3 linked regions of the Homo sapiens genome follow. The protein of the gene in region 2 interacts with the protein of the main gene of each other region in a biochemical or structural test. Each region holds a gene or a part of one and is shown on either strand. Other genes may lie near its edges. The genes, in order: DHX9, EWSR1 and SMARCC2.

Region 1 (3,653 bases), on a different chromosome or scaffold from region 2:
ACTATTCTTAAATTTTTCTTTTAGGTTTGATTATAATACTTTTTTTAAAAAAAGAATTATGTTTTAGTTAAAAACTGAAATATTAACAGATGAATAAGATGTCTGGGATGCTCCAAAATAATCTAAGAAAGGGGAGTAGTTAGAAATGAGTAAAATTGAAAGTGTTGCAGCCAGATGACGGAAACATGGAGTTTCACTATATTATTCTTTTATACACATCTACAATTGTCCACAGCAAAAAAAATTTTAAAATATCCTCTACATGCTCACTTTTGGCAAATGCAATTTATGGCATGAAAGGGTAAGTTCCAGATGAAATAAGTGATTATGAAAAAGGATTTCCCTAGAATGAGGAGGTAAGATAAAGATGGTAGCTGGTAACAGTTTGGTTACGTATCGCTGCCCAAATGTCATGTCAAATTTTAATCCTCAATGTTGGAGGTAGGGCCTGGTGAGAAGTAACTGGATCATGAGGTGGGTTTCTCATGCATGGTTTAGTACCACTTTCCTTGGTACTGCTATCCTAGCAACAGTGAGTGAGTTCTCATGAGATCTGGTCATTTAAAAGTGTGTGGCATCTTCCCCTTTACTTTCTCTTGCTCCTGCTATGTAGGACATCCCTGCTTCCCCTTCACCTTCTGCCATCATTCTAAGTTTACTGAGGCCTCTTCAGAAGTCAAGCAGATTCCAGTACCACACTTCCTGTAAAGCCTGCATAATTGTGAGCCAATTAAATCTCTTTTCTTTATAAATTATGCAGTCTCAGGTATTTTATAGCAATGCAAGAATGGACTAATAATACAGTGGGGTTAAAAGTAGAAATGGGTTGTTATAATTTTTTTTTCCAAATTCATCCATTCATTTACTCAGTCAACCAAAAAACATTTAAGTATCTGCTATAGACCAGGAACCATTCTAAATGTTGGAGACACAGCAACGAACTAAAAACAAAAAAATCCCTGCCCTCACGAACTTACATTCTAATACAATGAAACAAAAATAAATTACGTTGGAACAAGGTTTCTCATCTTGGTGACATTTTAGGCTGGTTAATTCTTTGTTGTAGGAGTTTGTCAAGTGCATTGTAGGTCATTAGCAGCATCCCTGGCCTTCACCTTCTAGATGTCAGTGGCCTCCTCGAGTTACAACAACAAAAATATCTCCATACATCCCCAAACATCCCTTGAGGGGACAAAATGGTCTCCAGTTGAGAAACACTGAGTTAAAAAGTAAGTGTTACGGAGAAAAATAAAGCATTGAAGGAGTTTAGGAAGTAACCTGAGGGTGACAATGTTTATAATGTTAAATAGGACAGCTGGGGAAGAGTCCTTCAGGTATAGAAGTTTTGAGGCAGAAAGATGAGGGCTTATTTGAAGACCTATGAAGAAGTACAGCTACTGTAGCTGGAACAGAGGAAATAAGGAAGAAAGTAGGAAATCCACAGAGCATTTAATAGGAAACACCTGAGCCATGTTAAAACAATAATAAAAAAATCACCTAGGGGATTACTTCTGGTTGTAGCCAAGTAAGTTCCTGTAAGACTGACCCTCCTGCAGGTAAAATAAACTTTAGGGGGAAAAAATACAAACACACACACAACACACCAGAACTATATGCAGGCAATAAAAAATGAACGAAAAAAGCAGGTAGATTCTTGAGAGAAGTTAAAATGGGGAAGCACGGAGTATCAAGGGTCTAATTCCAGTTTACTGTAGCTTTTAGCCTGAGAGAAGCCATCCCAGGCAGCTAAACCTCCAATGAAACCATCTTTTTGGCCTGAAGAATCAGAATTAGAGTTCAGGGAAAGCAAAGCTGCTAGAAAGTGAGGGAATGCTGGAAAGGAAACAGCCAGAGAGGAGGAGCCCCGAATTCTGTATATTGAAATCTCTGGCTAACCCTTGAAAACCACTCATGTACAGGGCAGATTCCAAGCTGCCCAGCAAAGGAGACCTGAAGGACTCTTCCATGGCTGTCCTAAATGATCAGAAAACTGAGGTGAGATCTGAGTTAACATCCAAAAGACAGCATTTGCAGTTTGAGTCCAGTTAAATTAAATGCCTGATTAAAAACAAAACAAAACAAAACAAAAAAACCAAATCAATGCTCTTTGGAGGAGTATAACATTATTCAGAGTCTCCACAGCATAATATTCCAATGCCCAGAATGCAATAAAAAATTATTTGATACACAAAGAGGAAAATGTGATCCAACCTCAAGAAAATATACCTATCAAGAGAATCCAACCCTGAGATGACTCAGATGTTAGTAGTAGTAGGCAAGGATTTTAAAGCAGCTATTAGAATTAAGCTTCATGACATAAAAGAAATCCATATTTATATTACAAACATACACTTATAACGAATGAAAAGAAATGCCACCAGAGAAAACATACAGAAAAGAATAAGCTGGAGATTTTAAAAGTGAAAAAGGTAGTGTCTGAAATACACTGGGTGGGCTTAGCAAAATGGAAGGGACAGAAAAAACTATCAAAGAATCTGAAGATAATCAATAAAAATTATTCAATTTGAGAAACAGTGGAAAAAATGATAGGAAAAAAAAAAGAGAGCCTCAGGGACCTGTGGGATATCAAGTCTTTATAAATATAAACACCAAGAGGAAAGAAGAAAAAATAAAACAAAAAATATCTTAAATAATAGCTAAGTCTCTCAAAGTTGGTGAAATACATAAATCTATGGATTCAATAATCTCAGCAAACCTTGAACAAGTTAGAACACACACATACAAAAAAACCCATGCCCGGTCACAACACAAAATACTAAAAACCAAAAATAACAGGAAAAGATCTTAAAAACACAGACTACCACATTACATATGGGAGAGAGTGATTTGATTATAGCTGACTTCTTACAGAAAACAGCAAGTAGACAGTGTCATATTATCTTTAAAGCCTATCTGGTCTCTGGCTGGACTCAGTGGCTCACGCCTGTAATCCCAGCACTTTGGGAGGCCAAGGCGGGCAGATAACCTGAGGTTGGGAGTTGGAGACCAGCCTGACCAACATGGAGAAACCCCGTCTCTACTAAAAATACAAAATTAGCCGGGCATGGCGGCACATGCCAGTAATCCCAGATACTCCTGCCTGAGGCAGGAGAATCGCTTGAACCCGGAGGCAAAGGTGGCGGTGAGCCGAGATCATGCCACTGCACTCCAGCCTGGGCAACAAAAGCGAAACTCCATCTCAAAAAAAAAAAAAAAAAGTACATCTGGTCTTCAATCCCATTTCCCTGGCATAGAAATCCTAAATCCTTATAATCTCCTAAGTGGAGACTTTCTGTATGCTAACGAGTTGACTGCTGGCTGGCAGGCCCTAGGTAGCTTCAGGTGTGGGGGGATGGTCACCAGAACCACCAAGGAAAGATTAGAGGGCTGAAACTTTCGGTCCCACCTCCCAGCCTCTGGGGAAGTGAGAAGGGCTGAAGGTCAAGTCACCAATGGCCAACGATTTAATCAATACTGAATAATGAAGTTTCCATAAAAACCAAAGGACAGGGTTTGGAGGGCTTCCAAATGGCCGAACAGGTGGAGGTTCCTGAAGAATGGTGTTCGAGGCAGGGCATGGGAGCTCCCTGCTGCCTCCGCCATATCTTGCCCTACTTATTTCACCAACTGTATTTTGTAGTATTCTTTATAAT
Region 2 (3,653 bases):
ACTACTGCCCAAGGATATTCATCATAAATCTAAGAAAACTACCAAGCATACTAAGAAGAATGCTATCAAACTTTTGGTTTACTTCACTTAAGGCAATTATGAGTAGATGCTCACATAGGATTTCCCAAACTGTCCTTGACAGCAAGAATATCACACTGGTCTATAAGGCTGCTGAACTCTACGCATGCATTTACCTCTGTACCATTAATTTACAAAGCACGATATGAAGCACAACTAGAATTCAAAATTACCTAGATCAAGATCTGGTCCTTCATCCATGGGTCCTGCCAACCAGGAAAGATCATATAAAATATTATTAGTGCACGTCTTGCAAGCTACAAACCTTACAAACACACATAGCTATCTACTATACCACCATTTGATGGGGATTCATTAAACTCAAAATGACCCGCACTGCTAAAATGGAGCAGTGTCTCTTTAACATTTGTGAAAGGTTTGCTAGGGTTTGCTTTTTTCCTTTGCTGGTTTGCTTCTAAACCATTAACCAAATACACTCTCAATGCTTATGTGCCAAATCAGTGTTAAATTTAAGTCAAAATTTTTCCTCTAAATAAACCAAATTTAAAAATTTATTCTCCCCCATATTACAGAAGCAGTTACTCAATACTTCAAGTTACCCTTTGTTTTGTAACCATAGGTTAACCTTATTAACCCCTAAGACAATGCCGGCAGTACCCATTAGTCTCTTTTGTATAGATCATTTTTAAACCACTTATGAAACTAATAAAAAAATTATAGTTTTCTAAAAACTGACTGCATTTTTTTTTAAACACTATCTATGGTAATACTCAAAAACTTACCACCAGGCTTATTGAAGCCACCTCGCTCTCCAGCGCTGCTGGGGGGATAAACGAAGAAATGAAGGCCTTTCCCTTTAAAAGCCAGTACCGCTCTGAGCCTTGGGGGGGCTCGTGGGGAAGAAGGGCACTGGCTAAACACATCTCCAAACAATGCATCTCTCTCATCTTGTCACTATGCCTTTCTTCAGGGCAGCTTGCTCAAATTTCCTCAATATACAACCTTGCTTGTCTGATTGTACACACCAGTGTGGTTGGTTCCTTTCATTTCGGGGGCTGGTATTAATAGTGCAATACTTGGCAAATTAGCAAGAAAAAATAGATCCCAAACACCCACCCCGTCAGGTGAAAAACCAGAAGAGCTTGGTATAGAGGGGAGGAGCAAGTGGGGGTTAACTGCTGTGATAAACCTTTCCATGTTCATAAAGGTGCACCCTCAACCTCTCCCAAGGGAGAGCCAAATGAGGCCCAGGGTTTCCTAACAAGTCACAGTATAATAAAAGCAGGAGACAACCACATTAAATTCCTACAACACACATCAGAGGACGCATCCAGCCAATCTTCAGCATAAAGCCATACATCTCAGGGCACGAATAGATTTAACAATCGCTGTGAAAGGAGAATTTACAACAAATACCAAGGCTCAACGGACTGGGGGTGCAACTTTATAGACATATCAGTTAGAATAATGACTATGGCCATGTAAAATTACTTAAAGAGGGGAGAGGGAAATATGAATTGGACTTTTTGGGTTAGATTTTGTTTTCTTTAAAATTAAATAAAGGCAGCTCCCCAGTGGGAGGCCCTGAGTTTTTTCTAACCAGTATTGCACCTTTAATACCTGAATATACAATTTCAAGCTGTTGCATGCAGCTTTGTTTCCTTTTTAAAAGTACACACCATAAAATGTTCTCTCTCTTTAAACACAAAAGTTTACACTTTAATGTTACACAATTCTAGAGTATTATACCTCCTCTGGTTCATTACCAAACAACAAGTATGCAGTTACCAAAGTTACAGAAGGATTCCATTTATACAATGAATACATTTTGTTAAAAATATTCTATGTATATTTTTCCTCTCCATATGGACACCGTGTCTAGTCCCACTTTTCATTATGCTGCCGGCTGAGTACTGAGTACGGGTACTTTTTAAGTATTGAAGTGTATACAAGGCTCTCACTTTGTAACCTGTAGCATATAAATGCGACAAAGCATGTTAAAAAGTTTCCACGTTTAACAGCCAATGAAAATATCAAAATACTGAGGCAATGAAAAAGGGCATGTTAACAACATTGAGTGCCTTACCTGTACAAGACACTGAAAACCATCACCACACCACAATAAAAAGGGGGGCAACGAGGGAAATGCCCGTCTATCCCCACAGGATCCGACAGACTGCTTCACAGTCTGTTGAAAAACCTATGGGGAAAGCCATGGTCTCTTCTATGGCTGCAAGAGAGACTTCTCATCCAGAAAGAGGGGCCCCCTCTACTAGCAAAGTCTAGCACAATTAGTAGGATTATAACTTCTGGAGTATTTAAATAAACTTGAAATTGTATTTGCAATTTAAAAATACTAGGAATTCTAGGTGATTTGAGACGTGATGATAGTACTTTCAAGTGTCTATGTCTATTTTAAAACATCCAAAAAGAAGTGAAACCTTTATAATAGAGTATTTTCCAAATCAGAAGATTGATTTTACTTCATACCGAATCATTAAATTTTTGCCTGTTGTCAAATGACTTTCTTCCAATAAAGATTTCACTAAAGACTTTCTTAAAGTTATGCAGAATATGCAAAATAGTACTGTCTTTCAGTAGTGAAGAGTATTTGCTAATATGGAAGTTAAAAATCAACTTTAATTTTGAAGTTCATTCTGTTTTTTAAAAAATGCTATTTAATTTTTCCTTGAATAGTGGCACACCGTATCAAATGTAAATATCTAACATTCTGCATAACTTTTTTTTTTCTTTACCAGTTTATATAGGGACAGAACACACACAGAACTAAGCCTTCTGGATTATGTTAACCACCAATATTATAGCTCACCTTCATCAAAGTACAGACACCAGATAGGGAAAAGGGGATGGGAGAAGGGAGGGGAAGGGCAGGCAGAGGCAGCAGGGTTATGTCATTGATCTAAACAAAGTTTTCTAAACCAGATTGTGCCATCAATCAAAATGGTCAAACCGATTTAGACTTTCAACATCTCCAGTAGGAAGTGAGCCCATAATTATATACATTACTCTGCAAAATGCTATTGGATTTTTCTTTGCTCCATCCAAACTCTATGTAATCAGGTGCACCTCAGGCTATAGTTTAAGGATTATGGGACCAAAATCTTCATATGTTCAACGATTCTGAGTACAAACAGAAGTTGGGGACAAACACTGTGGAAAACAGCTGCATTCCTTTTCTGCAGTATATACACCAGGTATTTCAAGACAACCATTCAAAGGCAGTTAGTTAACAACTTAGGGTCATTAGAAGGGTTGTGTGTGTTCCATCCCAAATCTACTACCCACAGAGGCTTCTCACCTCTGGAAACCATGAAGGGAACTGAAAGCTCTGGTTTCAAAACCATTCTTTGTTCTCCCCGACCCAACGAAGTATACTGGCAGGGAAAGAAAATAAACTGCCACTTAATATATGCCACAAAGATGACATTTCCATGTTTTAGAAGATGGCTTGAGCTCAACAGATTGTCCATGGAAATGCAGAAATTAATTTCTTATGTCTTTCAGTCCCTTCTTTCCACTGAAAATCCTATGGATGAAACAAAATTAGGTAAAAGGAGAAAAGGTTTGCTCTTACCCCATTCCACCGCGTCCTC
Region 3 (3,653 bases), on a different chromosome or scaffold from region 2:
AATCTGACCAAATCACTCTGTGGAAGAATGGTTAAGTGTTAAACATTTTTGAAAGCAGAGGATACTTTCCTCAACTGAATTCATATACATATGCTCAGGAGCAAACATAGAGAAGAGAGAGAGCTGATTGATGAGGAGGTAGAAGCCAGAACTCTTCTTGGTGGCAGCCCTAATCCTACCCCTGAAATACACTTCTGGAATACCTGGGGTGAGTCTACAGAATACAGACTGTAAACCAGTATTGGTGGAGCAATGTCTCCAAAGTGGGGTTCTAACATAGGACGCAAAAGATGATCCACTGCAACTCAGGGAGAGAATACAGAACTTCTCTTCATGTTTTTTGTTTTGTTTTTTTGAGACGGAGTCTCGCTCTGTCGCCCAGGCTGGAGTGCAGTGGTGCGATCTCGGCTCACTGCAACCTCCACCTCCCAGATTCAAGTGATTCTCCTGCCTCAGCCTCCCGAATAGCTAGGATTACAGGCGCCCACCACCACGCCTGGCAAATTTTTGTATTTTTCGTAAAGATGGGGTTTCACCGTGTTAGCCAGGATGGTCTTGATCTCTTGACCTCGTGATCCGCCTGCCTCGGCCTCCCAAAGTGCTGGGATTACAGGCGTAAGCCACCGCGCCCTGATTCTTCATGTTTGTTTTTATCATTCTTTACATTTTTCAATTTTTTAGATATGTTTGTGTTTTAAAACGTTCCCATGGTAGCGGCTTAACAGTACAAGTACATAATTAATGCATATATACATTTTTTTTTCTTTTTTTTTATTTGAGATGGAGTCTCGCCCTGTTGCCCAGGCTGGAGTGCAGTGGCGTGATCTCAGCTCACTGCAAGCTCCGCCTCCCAGGTTCACGCCATTCTCCTGCCTCAGCCTCCTGAGTAGCTAGGACTACAGGCACCCGCCACCACGCTCAGCTAATTTTTTTGTATTTTTGGTATAGACAGGGTTTCACCATGTTAGCCAGGATGGTCTCGATCTCCTGACCTCGTGATCCGCCCACCTCGGCCTGCCAAAGTGCTGGGATTACAGGCATGAGCCACCGTGCCCGGCCCTTTTTTTTTTTGAGATGGAGTTTTGCTCTTGTCGCCCAGGCTGGAGTGCAGTGGTACAATCTCGGCTCCCTGCAACCTCTACCTCCCAGGTTCAAGCAATTCTCCTGCCTCGGTCTCCCGAGTAGCTGGGATTACAGGTGCCCACCACCACGCCCAGCTAATTTTTGTATTTTTAGTAGAGATGGGGTTTCACCATGTTGGCCAGGCTGGTCTCGAATTCCTGACCTCAGGTGATCCGCCCGCCTCGGCCTCCCAAAATGCTGGGATTACAGTCATAAGCCACCGTGCCTGGCCATGCTCAAATATATTTTACTGTCAGAAACACATAATCAAAGAGTTTGGAGACAACTACTATCAGGCACAAAGCACAGTCCACAACTCAGATATGAATATACAGTTAGAGGATTTTCCAGGGTAATGACCGTAATTCCAATAACCAGCTAAATTTAAGGAAAAGATCCTGTAGACTGGGAGGTGGACCTGAGAAATCAGCTCACTTGGGGTTTGGCAAAGGAGAGTCAAGACGGGGAGTGGGGGTGGATCCCAGGAGCTCAGCCTGGCCTGTACCTGTTTTGGGAAGTGTCACCTCTTCTACATTGGGGACTGGTGAGGGCTCGTCCATGTCCTTTGTCAGGTCTTCTTGCTCCTCTTCTCTGTGGCCACGCTTTGACTTAGTGTAAGGTGTTGAGGGACTGGGAAGGAAAGAGAGTGAAAGAGAACCCAGTCATCCTTGGACAAGGAGTCCCTGGAAGTTGAAGTTCAAGGGAAGGGAAGTGACAGAGAATTCCAAGGGTAGAGCTGAGTACAAACAGAAACCAGTAATCACACAGTAATGGGAAGTGGCAAAGGCTTTTCACTTGATAAAGCTCTCTTTAAATGTACTAGTGGGGCCAGAACCAGAACTAACAACTGAGCAGCTAAAGATCTCCTCATCTTCCCTCTCAGGACACCTGCAGTATTATGGCACACCCAGGTCAGGGCCAGGTGGTTATAGGAAGGGATTTGTCTTTCCTTCCTTCAACATGATGTGGAGAGAATGGTGAACACGGGGGCAGGCTAGGGGCTGGCACACCCTTTCTTAGCATTTTTCTTCTTTGCTTCTGGGGTTGGTGAAGGAGAGGGGGAGCGCTTCCTCTTCTTATAGTTTCCCCCCTTCTTGTCCCGTCGATCTGAATCTGGGCTGTTCACCTATAGGATGGAGAATCAGGACAAATGTCAGCCTACAATCCCCACTGAAGATTTGTTCTGAGACTTATGCTAAGGGCGCCAGGAAAAAAAGAACAGGATTTGTCACCTCATCTGTCAGTGTCTTGGCTGAAATCTTCTTTCGGCGGGAGACAGGGTTTTTGTCATCATTTACTTCATAGTCTTCCTCATTCATCCATTCATTGAAGGTGTCGGTGTCCAGGATCCACTTTGCATGAACCTAAAGTACAAAGGCAGATCATGCTGCAGAGAAGCCTGGAAGCCACAGCTCTGTCTGGGGACCCTTAACAGAAAAAGCTCAAGGGCATACAAGCCTCTGTTTCACTTCCAAAGGGTAGACTGTTCCTGGCATTCTTTTTGGGGAAGAGGGGATACAAGAAAAGCTCACCTTCCTAGGTTTCTCAGGAGTTGGAGCATCTTCCACAGATGCCTCAATTTCACTCGCTGGGATCCACGTGTCGTAACTGCCATGGGAAATTGAGCACACAGTAGAATCAATGGGATAGAATTGTGGAAAAGTAAAGTGCAGATCTTTTACCCTTTCCATTTACAGAAAGTATTGGGTTCTTGGCTTATTTTTTTTGTATTCTATTCATTATAAAGTAGTAAAAGCACATTACGAAACATTTCAAAAATAGAGAACAAAAAGAATCACCCTTACGTAACTACTCTTGATACTTGTATATCTGTTTTTCCTCCACAGTAATTTTTTTTTTTTTTTGATACAGAGTCTTGCTCTTGCTCTGTCACCCAGGTTGGAGTGCAGTGGCGCGATCTCGGCTCACTGCAACCTCCGCCTCCCGGGTTCAAGCGATTCTCCTGCCTCAGCCTCCCGAGTAGCTGGGATTACAGGTGCCTGCCACTGCGCCCGGCTAATTTTTATATTTTTAGTACAGACGGGGTTTCACCATCTTGGCCAGGCTGGTCTCAAGCTCCTGACCTCGTGATCCACCCACCTCGGCCTCTCAAAGTGCTGGGATTACAGGCATGAGACACCGCGTCCAGCTGGGGTTTTTGTTTTTGTTAAGACAGGGTCTCACTTTGCTGCCTAGGCTGGTCTTGAACTTCCAGCCTTTAGTGATCCTCCTGCCTTGGCTTCCCAAAGTGCTAGTATTATAGGAGTGAGCTACTGTGCCTGGTCCACAATTTTCTTTTTACATAATCATAACCATACTAGATGATGTTTTTACATAATCATAACCATACTAGATGATATTTTACATGCTTTTTTTTTTTGAGACAGGGTCTTGCTCTATTGCCCAGGTTGAAGTGCAGTGGTGCAATCATGGCACAATGCAGACTCAACCTCCTGGGCTCAAGCAATCCTCCCACCTCAGCCCCCCAAGTAGCTAGGACTACAGGTGCATGCCACCATGCCCAGCTAATT

What was found.
Region 1: the proteins of EWSR1 (region 2) and DHX9 form a complex in vitro, tested with the Homo sapiens proteins (one study listed by BioGRID).
Region 3: the proteins of EWSR1 (region 2) and SMARCC2 form a complex in vitro, tested with the Homo sapiens proteins (one large-scale study listed by BioGRID).

Annotation. Positions count from the first base shown.
Region 1 is NC_000001.11:182,845,803-182,849,455, reverse strand, and holds part of DHX9 (ATP-dependent RNA helicase A), read right to left. Parts: intron 1-3,653. UniProt on the Homo sapiens protein: Multifunctional ATP-dependent nucleic acid helicase that unwinds DNA and RNA in a 3' to 5' direction and that plays important roles in many processes, such as DNA replication, transcriptional activation, post-transcriptional RNA regulation, mRNA translation and RNA-mediated gene silencing.
Region 2 is NC_000022.11:29,288,768-29,292,420, reverse strand, and holds part of EWSR1 (RNA-binding protein EWS), read right to left. Parts: coding exon 3,635-3,653; coding exon of another isoform or gene 3,631-3,634; intron 2,009-3,630; coding exon of another isoform or gene 1,918-2,008; exon of another isoform or gene 1,737-1,917; intron 860-1,736; coding exon 822-859; intron 285-821; coding exon 252-284; intron 1-251. UniProt on the Homo sapiens protein: Binds to ssRNA containing the consensus sequence 5'-AGGUAA-3'. Might normally function as a transcriptional repressor. EWS-fusion-proteins (EFPS) may play a role in the tumorigenic process.
Region 3 is NC_000012.12:56,179,350-56,183,002, forward strand, and holds part of SMARCC2 (SWI/SNF complex subunit SMARCC2), read right to left. Parts: intron 2,731-3,653; coding exon 2,655-2,730; intron 2,487-2,654; coding exon 2,355-2,486; intron 2,249-2,354; coding exon 2,133-2,248; intron 1,753-2,132; coding exon 1,628-1,752; intron 1-1,627. UniProt on the Homo sapiens protein: Involved in transcriptional activation and repression of select genes by chromatin remodeling (alteration of DNA-nucleosome topology).